Regions from separate parts of the Homo sapiens genome. Here region 2 is linked to region 1. Evidence: fine-mapped expression QTL. Tissue or cell type: esophagus mucosa. Region 1 holds a variant in brackets; the other region holds the start of a gene. All regions are shown on one strand. Distances are between the middles of the regions.

Evidence for each region. PIP is the estimated chance that this variant, and not a neighbour inherited with it, causes the effect.
Region 2: it holds the start of PEX6, and the variant in region 1 is fine-mapped to the expression of PEX6 in esophagus mucosa (GTEx, PIP 0.99).

What each region holds. Positions count from the first base shown.
Region 1 is chr6:42,928,615-42,936,717 of GRCh38, reverse strand. CNPY3 (canopy FGF signaling regulator 3) reads right to left here and starts at 7,238. Exons shown (of 6, transcript NM_006586.5): 1 at 6,997-7,238; 2 at 2,120-2,243; 3 at 1,048-1,144. The coding sequence starts at 7,147. It overlaps CNPY3-GNMT (CNPY3-GNMT readthrough), which reads right to left and starts at 7,238. Exons shown (of 5, transcript NR_134892.2): 1 at 6,997-7,238. RefSeq lists enhancers at 6,520-6,629, 6,940-7,199, 6,842-7,343, 7,650-7,699, 7,710-7,759 and 1 more. The variant G/A (reference allele first, on the strand shown) is at 4,880.
Region 2 is chr6:42,974,379-42,982,481 of GRCh38, reverse strand. It overlaps PEX6 (peroxisomal biogenesis factor 6), which reads left to right and starts at 3,301. Exons shown (of 17, transcript NM_000287.4): 1 at 3,301-4,213; 2 at 7,444-7,607. The coding sequence starts at 3,332. It overlaps LOC124900215 (a long non-coding RNA gene), which reads left to right. Exons shown (of 2, transcript XR_007059580.1): 2 at 1,639-1,940. RefSeq lists silencers at 1,042-1,260, 2,499-2,695, 3,350-3,729 and enhancers at 2,890-2,939, 3,100-4,041.

The sequences.
Region 1 (8,103 bases):
TAAAAAACACAAAAATTAGTCGGGCGTGGTGGTCGGTGCCTGTAATCCCAGCTACTCAGGAGGCTGAGGTGGGAGAATAGCTTCAATCTGGAAGGTGGAGGTTGCAATGAACTGAGATCGCACCACTGCGCTCCAGCTTGGGCAACAGAGTGTGAGACTCTGTCTCCAAAACAAACAAACACACAAAAACCTTGAAAATCAATTGAATTCAGTTCCTAAAGAGCCTCCCCATGCTTCGTTTCCAGCCGCATACTAGTCCACCAAACGGCTGGATCAACGTATTTAATCCCCTATTGGTAGAGTTAGATTGTTTCTCATTTTTTTCCTGCTATGAAAAATAATTCTTAAACACTTTTTATTAAAGCAAACACAGATTTATTACTGAGTGCAAAATTCATACAAATTTCTGCTGCTTGAGACTATTCCCTTAGGTATCCCAGGAGTTTATGAATGGTATCCTTTGCTAGAAGGAAACTTAGGTAGAAAAATGTGGGTGGCAACTATCTTACCCTGTGCCAGGCACTGAAGATGTAGAGAGTAAGAACTATGGGCCTTGTTGTAAGCAGCTCATTCTCCAGAGAGAAAAGCACTCGTACACATACTGAGTACATGGGCCATCACAAGGGCATCCCAGCGGGGTTGTGGGAGGTGCTGTGTGGACCCAGAGATGGGACTGGGCAGTCACTCCCACCGAGGTGTCCTCTGACACCTCGCCTAAACCCCCACCTTTCTGCACATCGTGGATCTTGCTGAGTTCTCCCCGTTCTAGTGTCTTTAGGTTCCCACGGGGGCAGCAACTGTGGAGCATTTCTGCCTGTGTCTGAGATTGAAGCAGGACCCTCATGAACAGGCCCAGACCCTCATGCATGTGCCTGAAAAATGAGGCCACTCAAGAGGGGAGGAGCACAAACGGCAATCAAAGAATGGGAAGAGGCAATGAAGGAAGATCCCAGGTGGTCATCTTCAAATCACACTCACACCAGCAGACACACTAAGATACATGCAGGCCTGACCCCAGAGCGGATGAAGGACAATCCCGAATCCAACCTTGGCAAATCGATTGCTGCCGGTCCTCTCCTTGTGCAGGCTATAATCCAGGAGCCTCTTGCAAATGGTCTCAGTGACTTCGATTAACCGCAAGTCCCTGCCAAGACAGGAGGATGAGGAACTGAGTTCCCCTCCTAGCCGCAGTGGGTTAGTGGTCTGTCCCTCCAGCCCTGTGCCCCAACACCTGCACATCTCACCAATGGGAAGTGACTCAGAGCTGGAAGGAAGATAGGTCATCTGGTCTGGGGGATCTGAAATGCTGGAACACAGACCAGAGAGACAAAATTTTAACAGCTCTAAGGGAAGGAATTTTTTATAAAGCTAAATGATTCAGTATTTAGATTTTTTGATAAAGCAAAATTATTAAATTTTGATAGTAAAATATCATTCTCTTTGAAAGGATGATCACAGCTGACAGAATTGGGTTTTTAAAAACTATATTTGTACCTAGCAAAATAAAAAGCTGGTAATCCTGTTACTAATGTTTTAAAAAATTGCACTGTGGCCGGGTGTGGTGGCTCACACCTGTAATCCCAGCACTTTGGGAGGCCGAGGCAGGCGGATCATCTCAGGTCAGGAGTTCGAGACCAGCCTAACCAACATGGTGAAACTCCATCTCTACTAAAAAAATACAGAAAATTAGCTGGGCGTGATGGCACATGCCTGTAATCCCAGCTACTTGGGAGGCTGAGGCAGGAAAATCTCTTGAACCCGGGAGGCAGAGGTTGCAGTGAGCAAAGATCATGCCATTGCACTCCAGCCTGGGCAACAAGAGTGAAACTCCGTCGCAAAAAAAAACTTGCATTGCTCTGTGAAATCCAAGCGTCTGAGAATCAATGATATAGTCCAACAGTCTTGCTTTTAGAGATGAGAAATCTGCTGAAGCATAAAGAAGTTAAGAGATTTATGCACGTCACCCAATTAGCTGGGGACAGAATCAGTGGGCAAACTCAGGTCTTGGTTACAAATGATGCCCTTGTAGGGGGTTTGCCTAGCTAGGAGAAGGGAACTCCAAACCCCTGAAGCCTCCAGCAGCAACGCAGGCCAGGCCAGTGAGTCCCCATTCACTTACGACTTGGTGTATTTGACTCCAGAGGCCTTCTGGTCCAGGATGCCATAGCCCGTGCCAATCACCTCCTTGGTCTTGCCGGTTTCCTCAAAGGCTGACTTCAGCTCCACAGCAACATATTTACACACTGGGGGAGGGAGGTAGCACAGCCCACTGAGTGCACATGAGTCTAATGGGAGGCCAGCTCCCAGCAAAACAGATCCAGGTGGGCATCCTTTCCTAGACTGGAGGACCAAAATCAGCACTCAAGGCAGGGAAGGAGTTAGAACCTGTGGAGGCTAAAGCAACTCCATCTTGGATGCTAATGTGCCATGTTGACTTCTGATTAACCCCAGTTTCAGGAATGCCTCTAGGATTTCTATTTTATCTACTGTTTCTTGTGTAAGAGCATGTACTTACTGTAAATCCTGCCCTTAAGCAATTGTTCTTCGTATTCCTTTTTTTTTTTTGAGATGGAGTTTCGCTCTTGTTGCCCAGGCTAGAGTACAATGATGAGATCTCAGCTCCTGGGTTCAAGCGATTCTCCTGCCTCAGCCTCCCAAGTAGCTGGGATTACAGGCATGCACCACCATGCACGGCTAATTCTGTATTTTTAGTAGAGACAGGTTTCATCTTGTTGGGTAGGCTGGTCTTGAACTCCTGACCTCAAGCGATCCGCCCACCTCGGCCTCACAAAGTGCTGGGATTACAGGCGTGAGCCACCACGCCAGGGTCTATCATTTTACTTTCTAAAATTGCATACATACAGAAAAGCTGAAAGAACACAATGAATACCTTCCACTTGTATTCAACAGTTGTTAATAGTTTGCCACATTCTCTCTTCAATATATAATTATAATATCTCAACAATATATACATTTCTTTTGCTACACCATCTTGAAAGTAAGTGGCAAACATGACCTTTTGAGATAAATATATCATCATGTATCTCCTGAGAAAAAAGACCTCCTCCTACATAACCATAGAACAATTATGATACTTGGAAAATTAACAATTCCAACATCACCCAGTAGTCCATATTCAAATTTCCTTAATTGTCCCCAAAACATCTTTTATGGTTGTTAGATTACTTGATTTCATATGTGTTCCAACATCAGCTCTATTTCTACCAAGTTAATTTGCTCCATGCCCTCCAGAGAGCTCTTGTTCCTACTGTCTCCGCACATTTATTTCCTCATTTCCTCTTACCCTTCCTCAAATAGGTATTAGGCAACTCCTACGTGTCAGCCTGGGGATACAGAGATGAAAACAAGGTCCCCTCCCTTCCAGATACTCAGTCTAATGCAGCAGATAAAGGTGTAGACAAATAACTACCACTGTATAGAGTGCTACAGTGCTACCACCGAGGGTGTGAAGTGCCTGAGGCCCTAGGAAAATACTTAATGCCTTCTAAGGGCTTCTCTGCCCATCCTGCCCACCTCGCATTATAAGCCTCTCCCCCAGGAAGCCATTCTGCACTAATGCCAATTGCTCTAGATTTCACTCTGGGCCTCTGCAGGATCCATGCTCTCCCTAAGGACCCTCAGTCATTTGATGTGTCTCTCCACATAGACCACAAGGGTCCCCAAAATGTGCATTATGTATTAGATTTTTTCGTATTTCCTTAGCCTGGGACTTGATATATGCTGGACGCTCGATAAATCTTGTTGATAGAGACCGTCTTCTGATGCCTCTGAATGGAATACCAGTCTGAAGGCTAAATGCCATCAGCAGTTTTAACACTGACAGCACAGTCTGCTAGAATACCAATTTACCACAAAAATAAATACATCCCCTGGAGGCCTGCTTGGTGAAATTAATCAATGGCTTGGAGAATTTGAAACACATACAAATTCCAAGTAATAAGCTGGTGATCTTCAAGTCTGCAATGAACTGGGGATGTCTCACCTCCCCAGCTCTCCATCCAGGACCATCTGGGCTCCCTCCCCTCTTCTGTCCTGTACTCTGTGCAGGCACATCATTTTTCTAGCACCACTTGCCCCTCCTCCCACGCCCTCCCCAGGAGTGGGGAAAGGGGAGGTTTGGAACATCCTTTCTCTCTCATACCCATCAACCACAGCCTTGCTTTCCAGCTCTTCCAAACATTACCTCTTCAAGACCTCCTCTGCGGATCCCACCCAGAACCAGACTCACAGGAGATTCACGGCACAGACACCAGACCCTCACTGACATCCACCCACTCTTTTTTTCCGGGCAGGTTCTCCTTCCTCTGTGCCGAGGCCTGTTCCACTCAGGCTACTGAGCCAGGAGGCAGGCTTGGTGGGCTAGACACAGTCAGCATTTAATAACAAAGGTGTAATAATAATACAAACAAATATACTATTAAGATGAACCTAACGGTTGGAGTTTGCCAAGCCATCCTGTGACTGCAAATCCCTTTTCAATTAATCTTCATCAGTTACCAAATGAGGGTAGACTAGAATGATCTCTAGATATAGAGATATAGAGATCCTGGGCATCTCTATGCTTCCGTGAGTCTGTGAATGTTGCCTAAGGAGAATAAATGTGAGCTCCTTAGGCTATGAGAATAATAAGAGGGAGAGTATGGGCTCTTTGATATCAGAATAAGACAGAATACAGGCTGGGCACGGAGGCTCATGCCTGTAATCCCAGCAATTTGGAAGGCTGAGGTGGGAGGATCACCTGAGGTCAGGAGTTCAAGACCAACCTGGCCAACATGGTGAAACCCAGTCTCTACAAAAATACAAAAATTACCCGGGCATGATGGCAGGTGCCTGTAATCCCAGCTATTCAGGAGGTTGA[G/A]GCAGGAGAATCACTTGAACCCTGGAGGCAGAGGTTGCAGTGAGCCGAGGTTGTGCCATTGCACTCCAGCCTGGGCAACAGAGCAAGACTCCGTCTCAAAAAAAAATAATAATAATAATAATAAGACAGAAAAGAAAGAGAAGAGGAAGCGAAACGCTGAAAGGCTATCAGTTAGCTGGGCTGGGTGCAGTGGCTCACGCCTGTAATCCCAGCACTTTGGGAGGCTAAGGTGGGTGGATCACCCGAGTTCAGGAGTTCAAGACCAGCCTGGCCAACATGGTGAAAACCCGTCTCTACTAAAAATAGCCGGGAGTGGTGGCACACACCTGTAGTCCCACCTACTCGGGAGGCTGAGGTAGAAGAATCCTTGAACCTGGGGGACGGAGGTTGCAGCGAGTCAAGGTCGCACCACTGCACTCCAGACTGGGCAGAGCAAGACTCCGTCTCAAAAAAAAAAAAAAGGCCAGGCACGGTGGCTCATGCCTGTAATCCCAATACTTTGTAAGGCCGAGGAGGGTGGGTCACTGGAGGTTGCGGTGAGCCAAGATCGCGCCACTGCATTCCAGCCTGGGCAATAAGAGCGAAACTCCATCTCAAAAAAAAAAAAAAAAGCTATCAGGACTAGAGGAAGAGCGAAAAGTGAAAGGGCGGCCAGGAGCAGAGGCTCACGCCTATAAGCCCAGCACTGTGGGAGCCCAAGGCAGGTGGATCACTTGAGGTCAGGAGTTCAAGACCAGCCTGACCAATATGATGAAATCCCATCTCTACTAAAAACACAAAAATTAGCTGGGCATGGTGGCATGCGCCTGTAATCCCAGCTACTCAGGAGGCTGAGACAGGAAAATCGTTTGAACCTAGGAGGCAGAGGTTGCAATAAGCCGAGATCTCGCCACTGCACTCCAGCCTGGGCAACAGAGCCAGACAGTCTCATAAAAAAAAAAAAGGAAAAAAAGAAAAGAATGTACGGGGGAAGGCACAGGCTTGAACTCATACTGGGTGCCCTACCAGTGAAGTCGGCTTATCTCTAAAGCATCCTTTTAATCTCTCTAATGGAAGGATTATGTGTCCGAAACTTACCCCAAACCCACTTTCCAGTGTTTAGGGAACATCTGGCCTGATGTAGGCTTTCAATTCAGATGAGAGATTCACAGCCAACTTTCTGGGGGCCCTGGGGTTACGGGGCTAGGAAGGCAGGCATGACTGTAAGGTCTGAGGAGAAAACTAAGGGACGGAGTTGAGGAAAAAGAAATAGGTCCTTTATAGTCCTGGCTCGCTGGTAGCTCCCTCTCTCTCTCTCTCTGTAGTTCCTCAACGCCTATGTCTTTGGGACTCACCTTTTCTCCAAAGTCCTAAAATCTTCTTTCAAGTTCCCCATAGGCTCTATTGTTCCCCCAAAGGGCTCCTCAGATCCAGATCCTCCTCCTCACACACACCCACAGTCTCCCATTTAATCATCTGTATTCTCAAAACATTTATTGAGTGCCTACCAGACACTGTGTGAATACGTATCTAAGACAAAAATTCCTGCCTTCGAGGAGTTGTTAGTGGGTGCAACAGACAACTACACAGATTGGGTTGCAGTGAGGGCAAAAGGGGAAAGTCTTAGGTTTTTTTCCCCCAAGATGAGTCATCTGGAGCTTTTCAGTTCCTCAAACTCGTTCTTAGCTTCTCAGCCGGCAGGCCTCTGCCTCTGTAGTTTCCTGAGTGGGCCCCTCTCTTTCCACTTCTCTTCATCCGGCTAACTCCTAATGCCTCTTCGTGCTTCCTGTATGAAGCCCTCTTTGACTCCCCTCTGCACACAGCCTTCGCCCACCCCCTCCCCCACTCCAGGCTAGACCAGATGCTCCTCGTCCGGCCCCCAAAAGGAAGCTCTGTACCTCCCCTATCATGGCATCTACTACTCTGAATTATCATTGCTTGTTTCTACCAATGTGTGAACTCCAGGGGTACCGGGACCAGATCTCTCGTCCGCCGCAGCGTCCCGGCGCAAGCCTGTTCAAGGAAGGAAGACACCCTGCAGAGCTCGGAACCTTGCAACCCCCGACGCTGCTCCGCAAGCACCACCGCTGGAGCCAGCCCCTCCGGCAGGATACGCCCCACGGGCCCCGCCTCCTCACCTTCGCATTTGCTGGGCAGGCGAACCCAGTCGTTCTCCTCAGCTCCGGCCTGGCTCGGGCCCAGCTCCGGGGCCGGCAGCAGCAGCAGCAGCAGCAGCAGCAAGGGAAGAAGCAGAAGACAGCGGGACGCGGGCTCAGGCATTGAATCCATGGCCCGGCCGGGCCCGGACCCTAAAGGACCGGGCGGTTCCTCCTCCCGCGGCGCGCGCGGAGCAGTTTCCCCTCGCCGCTTCCGGGACTGCACACGTGCCTCCGAGCAACCACGACAACAGCTAGCCTCCCGCCCGCCCTCCTCTCGCAGCCGCAGCCCGCCTTCAAAGCGGACCAAGGCCCGCGGACGGCGCAGCCAATAGGCTTTCTGGGGTTTGCTCTCTAGCTAATGGGAAGACTATCTTTTTACGCCCTTGGCCAGTAAGAGAGCAGATGGTGGCCTCAGCGACCTATGGCAAAGTCCTTTCCCACCCCCTAACGGAGGCTCTGGGAGAGAGAGGATGCAGGACCAAGACCCGAGAAGAAGCCTGCGTCTGGGCCTGGGTGGGACGGATTCAGGCGCGCAGGTGCTGGAAGATGTGGGGAAGGCCGTCTTCGCGGCTTTCTCCGCCTCCTCGAACGTCACTTCCCTCCTGGGGTCCTAATGCCGCAAGTCCTTACTGAACATCTGTTTTTAAATTTTATTATTGGTATTGTGGTTGTTATAGCCGGGCACTCTTGTAGGCGCTTAAGGTGCAAGCAGGACGACTCAAACTGTCCCCAGCCTTCACACTTTTTTAGTAGCCAGTAGATTTGTCCTAGTGAGAACTAGAACAAATGACTTCCTCTCTGAGCCTGTTTCTATTTGTATGACGACAAAGTGATCCTCCTAGCTGCTGTGGGAGCTTGCCTGTTGTTGGGAAGCTCAAATAGGTTAATAGAATTAAAGCTTATCGAGCAGATTGTAAAAAGTTCAGGCATTAATTTTCTTTTTGTATGTAATCCCAGCCCCTTTTACTGCCCTATTATTTATTTCTTGATTCTGAGCTCTCAGAAGGCAGAAATTTAGCCGATTAACGATTGTCTCTCCCTTCCGCTTCCCCAGCAACAACAGGGTGCCTGGCACAAGGAGATACT
Region 2 (8,103 bases), 46 kb before region 1:
AGGTCAGGCGCAGTGGCTCACGCCTGTAATCCCAGCACTTTGGGAGACTGAGGAGGGCGGATCACCTGAGGTCAGGAGTTCAGGACCAGCCTGGCCAACATGGCAAAACCCCGTCTCTACAAAAATACAAAAATTAGCCAGGCATGACGGTGGGTGCCTGTAATCCCAGCTACTCAGGAGGCTGAGGCAGGATAATCCATTGAACCCGGGAGGTGGAGTTTGCAGTGAGCCGAGATCGCACCATTGCATTCCAGCCTGGGCGACAGGGCAAGACTCCATCTGAAAAAAAAAAAAAAAAACACAAAACCTGTGTCCCTTACCCAGGTACCCAGGAGAGCAATGTTACAAGACAGTGGCCGTGGGGATGGAGAAGAGAGGATGGAGCATGAAAATGTGTAGAATCAACAGGATATGGTGATTCATTGTATTGTGGGGGGGACGGTAACGGAAAGGGAAGAGTTGAGGATGATTTCTGGAAGTGATCAGAGTTGTAGGAGGACAACTGGTGTCATAATGGCAAAGGAAATAAAAGACAATTGGTCAGTAGTGTCAGAGAAAGAACAGCATCATCTTGATTCTGCAATTAGAAGATTATGGGTGATTTTTTCAGAGAGTGGAAGACCGTTTTTAGTGAGTGGAAGAGTGAGCATCAAGAGGTGAGGAAGTGAAGATGGCAAATGTAGGGTCCTGGCGATCTTACAGAAGTAGTATTTGGCTTTCGGTGACTAATGACGATTTCAGGGTAACACAAAGTGGACTACATGCCCGCTGTTACCTGCTGGGAGAAAAGCTTGGGAGAAAAGGACATTTATTTGTGGGTGGGTATTTGTGTCTGTATGAGTGCTGATCCAGGCAAGATAACTGATGTTTTTACCCATCTCCAAGGCCTCAAGGAGCACTATAGTCCTGAGGCCTAGAGCTTGCCTGCTACTGAGGAAAGCAGGCATATCCTCTTTAGGCCCATGTACCATCTATCTAGCCCTTGGTTCCTCTGGGACATAGGGGACCAAGAAACATATAGTAGCACTACCAAATGGGAACTTTCATCCATGTGAATCTAGGTACCTAGAACATTCTTTATTTAGTTTTTTTTTCTTTTAATTTTATATATTTTAAGAGACAAGGTCTTGCTCTGTCACCCACTTGGAGTGCAGTGGCACAATCATAGCCTCAAATTCCTGGGTTCAAGTGATCCTTCTGCCTCAGCCTCCCCATAGCTGGGATTATAGACACAAGCCATGGTTCCTGGTTAGTACATTCTTGCATGCTATTTTATTTATTTTTTTCTATTATTTATTTTTTTGAGACGGAATCTCACTCTGTCACCCAGGCTGGAGTGCAGTGGCGCAGTCTCGGCTCACTGCAAGCTCTGTCTCCCGGCTTCACGCCATTCTCCTGCCTCAGCCTCCCGAGTAGCTGGGACTACAGGCACACACCACCATACCCAGCTAATTTTTGTATTTTTAGTAGAGACGGGGTTTCACCATGTTGGCCAGGCTGGTCTCAAACTCCTGGCCTCAAGCAGTCCACCCACTTGGCCTCCCAAAGTGCTGGGATTACAGCCATGAGCCACTGCGCCCAGCCCCTTATAATATGCAAATCTAATAGTTTTCATATATTTGTCTTTCAAATTTTCAGGAATGTATAATGTACAAAATAGAAGACTGCCTCAAGAAGAAAGGAGAGATGGAGAAAGCTGAGCAGTAGCTGAAAGAGAATGTAAGGTCTAGAAAATGGAGATTGGCACCATCCAATTCATTTATTGTAAGTGAAAATAATTGTTAATAATTGGAAATGCAGTGGGACATGATGGCTTATGCCTGTAGTCCCAGCACTTTGGGAGGCTGAGGCCTGAGGATCTCTTCAGACCAGGAGTTTGAGACCAGCCTAGGCAACACAGAGAAACTCTGTCTCTACAAAAAATAAAAAATTAGTCCAGGCGCAGTGGCTCATGCCTGTAATCCCAGCACTTTGGGAGGCGTAAGCAGGTGGCTCACTTGAAGCCAGGAGTTCGAGACCAGCCTGACCAACAGGGTGAAACCCCGTCTCTACTGAAAATACAACATTAGCTGGGTGTGGTGGCACACACCTGTAATCTCAGCTACTTGGGAGGCTGGGGCAGGAGATTCTTTGAACCTGGGAAGCGGAGATTGCAGTGAGCTGAGATCGTGCCATTGCACTCTGGCCTGGGCAACAAGACCGAAACTCCGTCTCAAAAAAAAAATTGGCTGGGTATGGTGGCGTGTGCCTGTGGTCCCGGCTACAGTTACTCGGGAGGCTGAGGTGGGAGATCACTTGAGCCTGGGACGGTAGAAGCTGCAATGAATGGGGATCGTGCCACTGTACTCCAACCTGGGTGACAGAGTAGGACCCTGTTGCCATAAAAAAGGAAATGTGGCCTACCACTAGCTGAGTGTCTTGTACAGAACAGTGGAGGTGAAGAGAAGGATGGAATCTAAATAACAGCACACGCAGGAAGTCGACTGTTGGTGTTATGCTGACAGAAGCCTTGAACTCCTTTCCTTCTGCCTGCTCTGCTGCCTGCCCCGCTCTAGGATAGAAAGTGAATGGGTTTCCGATCTGCAAGGATTTGGGGGGGGGGGGTGAAAGAAAAGCTGTTTTGTCTTCAACTTAAGTTTGGTGGGAGTAAAACAAACAGAACAATGAACAGGGCAAGAAGTCCTGGAACATGGGTTTTGTGCCAGATGTGCTGGAACATGTGTGGTGGCACCAAGCACTCCAGGGCTGTATGAATCACATCTAGTAATTCACTCAGCAGCCACTATATACCTATAAGCAAGTGTGAGACAGTTTTCTAATCCTGCTACTCCCTCCTGCAACCTTTCCTGCAACCCTCAAACCTCAGTGCTCACAGTTCCACAGGGGAAGCTGCAGGAGCTCCGCAGAGGAGCGGACTCCTTCCGAAACATTTCACCTAGAGCTCCCAGTACTGGGCCCAGTCATCCCGAGCATGCTGACTGTTCATTTATCAGTCAATAAACTGTTACGTTCATGCCACGGGGAAAAATAGTTAAGAGAACATTACTTCCGTAGAAGGCAAAGATAAATCCCTTAAGCACAAGTTCAAATGGCGCATGGGTAAACGCTACGCAACCGCAGCGATGAAGGTTACTGCCTATCGAGGCACGACGCAGATCAATCCGAGGCGCAGCTAACCCCCTCAGAGCAAGTTCGCGGCACCCGACCCCCCTCCCCTTTTCCTCTGGCCTCCCCTGACGGAAGCGGAAGCGGCCCTCGCGCACACTAGTCGTCTGGCTCTCTGGCTCCGGAAGCTGCGCTCCTTCACCCTCCTCGTTGGTGTCCTGTCACCATGGCGCTGGCTGTCTTGCGGGTCCTGGAGCCCTTTCCGACCGAGACACCCCCGTTGGCAGTGCTGCTGCCACCCGGGGGCCCGTGGCCGGCGGCGGAGCTGGGCCTGGTGCTGGCCCTGAGGCCTGCAGGGGAGAGCCCGGCAGGGCCGGCGCTGCTGGTGGCAGCCCTGGAGGGGCCGGACGCGGGCACCGAAGAGCAGGGTCCCGGGCCGCCGCAGCTACTGGTTAGCCGCGCGCTGCTGCGGCTCCTGGCACTGGGCTCCGGGGCCTGGGTGCGGGCGCGGGCGGTGCGGCGGCCCCCGGCGCTAGGTTGGGCACTGCTTGGCACCTCGCTGGGGCCTGGGCTCGGACCGCGAGTCGGGCCGCTGCTGGTGAGGCGCGGAGAGACCCTCCCAGTGCCCGGACCGCGGGTGCTGGAGACGCGGCCGGCGTTGCAAGGGCTGCTGGGCCCAGGGACTCGGCTGGCTGTGACTGAGCTCCGCGGGCGGGCCAGACTGTGTCCAGAGTCTGGGGACAGCAGTCGGCCCCCACCCCCGCCCGTGGTGTCCTCCTTTGCGGTTTCTGGCACAGTGCGGCGACTCCAGGGAGTTCTGGGAGGGACTGGAGATTCACTAGGGGTGAGCCGGAGCTGTCTCCGTGGCCTTGGCCTCTTCCAGGGCGAATGGGTGTGGGTGGCCCAGGCCAGAGAGTCATCGAACACTTCACAGCCGCACTTGGCTAGGGTGCAGGTCCTAGAACCTCGCTGGGACCTCTCTGATAGACTGGGACCCGGCTCTGGACCGCTGGGAGAGCCCCTCGCTGACGGACTGGCGCTTGTCCCTGCCACTTTGGCTTTTAATCTTGGCTGTGACCCCCTGGAAATGGGAGAGCTCAGAATTCAGGTAGGATAAAGGACTGGGGTCAGGAGTGCTTCCTCTTTCTTATACCCTCTTCTCTGTCTTAGGTAAATTGGAAGATTTAGGACTCGTGCCCCATATCATCCCGGACTTTGAACATAATGTTTCTAGCCGGGCGCGGTGACTCACGCCTGTAATCCCAGCACTTTGGGAGGCCGAGGCGAGCGGATCACTTGGGGTCGGGAGTTCGAGACCAGCCTGACCAACATGGAGAAACCCCGTCTCTACTAAAAAAATGTAAAATTAGCCGGGCGTGGTGGTGCATGCCTCTAATCCCAGCTACTTGGGAGGCTGAAGCAGGAGAATCGCTTGAACCTGGGAGGCGGAGGTTGCGGTGAGCCAAGATCGCGCCATTGGACTCCAGCCTGGGCGATAAGAGTGAAACTCTGTCTCAAAAAAAAAAAAAAAAAAGCATAATGTTTCTTAGCCTCATTTATCTATTTTCTTTTTCTTTCTTTCCTTTTTTTTTTTTTTTTTTTTTTTTTGAGATGGGGTCTTGCTCTGTCACCCAGGCTGGAATGTGGTGATGCGATCTCGGCTTACTGCAACCTCCGCCTCCCAGGTTCAAGCGATTCTCCTGTCTCAGCCTCCTACTACTGGCTCGCGCCACGACGCCCGGCTAATTTTTGTAATTTTTAGTAGAGACGGGGTTTCACCGTATTGGTCAGGCTGGTCTCGAACTCCTGACCTCAGGTGATCCACCCAAAGTGTTGGGATTACAGGCGTGAGCCACCTCACCCGGCCTATTGATCCATATTCTGTAATCAAAATATCATAAGCCTCCATAATGTAGTGGGGCATACAAAAGGCTTTCATCCATTCAGGTGAAAGGTGAAGTTTGGGTGTGGTGGTGCATGCCTGTAATCCCAGCTACTTGGGAGGCTGAGGCAGGAGAATTGTTTGAACCTGGGAGGTGGAGGTTGCAGTGAGCCCAGATCACACCACTGCACTCCAGCCTGGACGACAGAGCGAAATTCTGTGTAAAAAAAAAAAAAAAAAAAAGTGAGGTTTCAGATGTGTATGTTAATCTACTCAATCTAATTAGTTTATTGAATTGCTACAATGTATTCAGTATTGTGCTTTATAATATGGAGGATGATGTCTCTGTGCTTTTGCTCATTCTTATCCTTGACTTCAAATTGTTTCCTATTATTCTAGCCTCATCTGTTAAAATCCTACCCTCCTTTCCCTCAAGAGCCATCTAAAGATGACACCTTTATCACAAAGCCTTTCATGATCTCACAGCCACGAATTTAGAACTTCCTCCTATAGCATTTTCTATCTTTTTTATGGCATTTATTTTATTCTATCTTGTTATGATTACATAATCTGTTTAATCCCCAATTATATATTGTAAATACCTTGAAGGAAAGGAGTCTTTATTATCTTTGGTGCCTGGTGTTTAGTTTTAATATTTTATTAAATACATCCAAGGAAAGTTTTTGGTTTCTGCCTTTACTTCAAGAAGAAAGTTGTAGAACAGATAATAGTTGTTCCATTTCCATGGGTTACTGAGTAAAGACTCACCAGTTCGCCATAACAGACATAAGAGTGACAAAAAAATAAACCTTCATTGTGTAAAAAAAAAAAAGGCCAGGCGCAGTGGCTCATGCCTGTAATCCCAGCACTTTGGGAGGCTGAGCCAGGCAGATCACTTGAGGTCAGGAGTTCGAGACCAGCCTGGCCTACATGGTGAAACCTCATCTCTACTAAAAATACAAAAATCAGCCCAGTATGGTGGTGCACACCAGTAAACCCAACAACTGGGGAGGCTGAAGCAGGAGAATCGCTTGAACCTGGGAGGTGGCAGTTGCAGTGAACCCAGATCACACCACTGCACTCCAACCTGGGTGACAGAGCAAGATTCTGTCTCAAAAAAAGAAAAAAATGAAAGTTGTGTTTAGGGGGACAAATACAGTATAGTGTTTAATTAAGGACCTAGATATATGGTTTAGATGGTGCTGTCCAATATGGAAGCCACCAGCCACTTTGTGGCTTTTTAAATTTTTAAATTTAGTTAAAACTAAATAAAGTAAGCCTGGCTAACATGGCGAAACCCCATCTCTATTTTAAAAAATACAAAAATTAAATCCCAGCACTTTGGGAGGCCAAGGCAGGCAGATCACAAGGTCAGGAGATTGAGACCATCCTGGCTAACACGGTGAAACCCCGTCTCTACTAAAAATACAAAAAAAAAAAAAATTAGGTGTGGTGGCACATGCCTGTCGTCCCAGCTACTCTGGAGGCTGAGGCAGGAGAATCCCTTGAACCCAGGAGGCGGAGCTTGCAGTGAGCCGAGATGGTGCCACTGCACTCCAGCCTGGGTGACAAGCGAGACTCCATCTCAAGAAAAAAATAAAACCCACAAAAATTAGCCAGGCATGGTGGTGCACATGCCTATAGTCCCAGCTACTCAGGAGGCTGAGGCACAAAGAGAATCATTTGAACCCAGGAGGAAGAGGTTGCAATGAGCCGAGACTGTGCCACTGCACTTCATCATGGGCGACAAAGTGAGACTAAGTCTCAAAAAAAAAAAAAAAACTAAATCATGTTTTTTAGTTGCTTTAGCTACATTTCTTTGTTTTTGTTTTGTTTTTAGCCACATTTCAAGTGCTCAATAGCACATGCAGATATAGACTATTCCATTGTAGAGAGTTCTACTGGGCAGTACTAGAGTAACCAGTTAATACTTTGGGATGTCAGGTAGAGATACATGTGAAATACATGTGAAAGGGAGTGGATGTAGGTTTCCTCCTGAATGGAGGAAAAACTACTGGGGTACTCAAGAGTAGAGCTCATTGAACCAACCAATGACTGAACCAACCCGTTCAGCTTTTCCCACAGCCTGAATTCAGTTTCCCCACTAATGACCACTTAATGTTAATCCCTGTGGATGCCTGGTGTCACTAATAGGTCTTGTGGGAATAAATGTCTTTACCATTTCACTGGCTCTGGGCCAAGTTGAAAGTGTCACAGAAAGGTTATCTTTACTGAGAAAATTTTTTGGAGCCAGAGTCGGGATAGGAGGTGATATTCTCTTCCTGGTACCCATTAGAGGGAGAGGTTTTCAGGTCTGCTACCTCAGGCCCCACCTTCCACAAGCCTTGTGGTTATGGGAAAGACAGGATGGAAATAGACATGTTGGCTGCTGAGAGACAGGTTAGAGCCTGCCCCCTTAGGAGAAGGTTATAACGTGGTGGTTATTTCTCTAATAGAGGTACTTGGAAGGCTCCATCGCCCCTGAAGACAAAGGAAGCTGCTCATTGCTGCCTGGGCCTCCATTTGCCAGAGAGTTACACATCGAAATTGTGTCTTCTCCCCACTACAGCACTAATGGAAATTATGACGGTGTTCTTTACCGGCACTTTCAGATACCCAGGTTAGCTACCTAACCTTTTAAGGAGGATAGCTTCTCACCCTCATTACATTCCTCCTATCCCATGCCTTAGAACCAAGTACCCCAGAGGCCCTGGTTAAAAGAAGCCACATTTGCGGCTAGGTGCTGTGGCTCACGTCTGTAATCCCAGCACTTTGGGAGGCCGAGGTGGGCGGATCATGAGGTCAGGAGATTGAGAGCATCCTGGCTAACATGGTGAAACCCCGTCTCTACTAAAAATACAAAAAAAAAATTAGCCGAGTGTGGTGGTGGGCGCCTGTAGTCCCAGCTACTTGGGAGGCTGAGGCAGGAGAATGGCGTGAACCCGGGAGGTGGAGCTTGCAGTGAGCCGAGATCGCACCACTGCACTCTAGCCTGGGCGACAGAGCGAGACTCCGTCTCAAAAAAAAAAAAAAAAAAAAAAAACAAAAAAAACATTTCAGACAGATTGTGGTAGGCGCCTCTTGGTATATCAGGGAGACCACAGAAGAGAAATCTG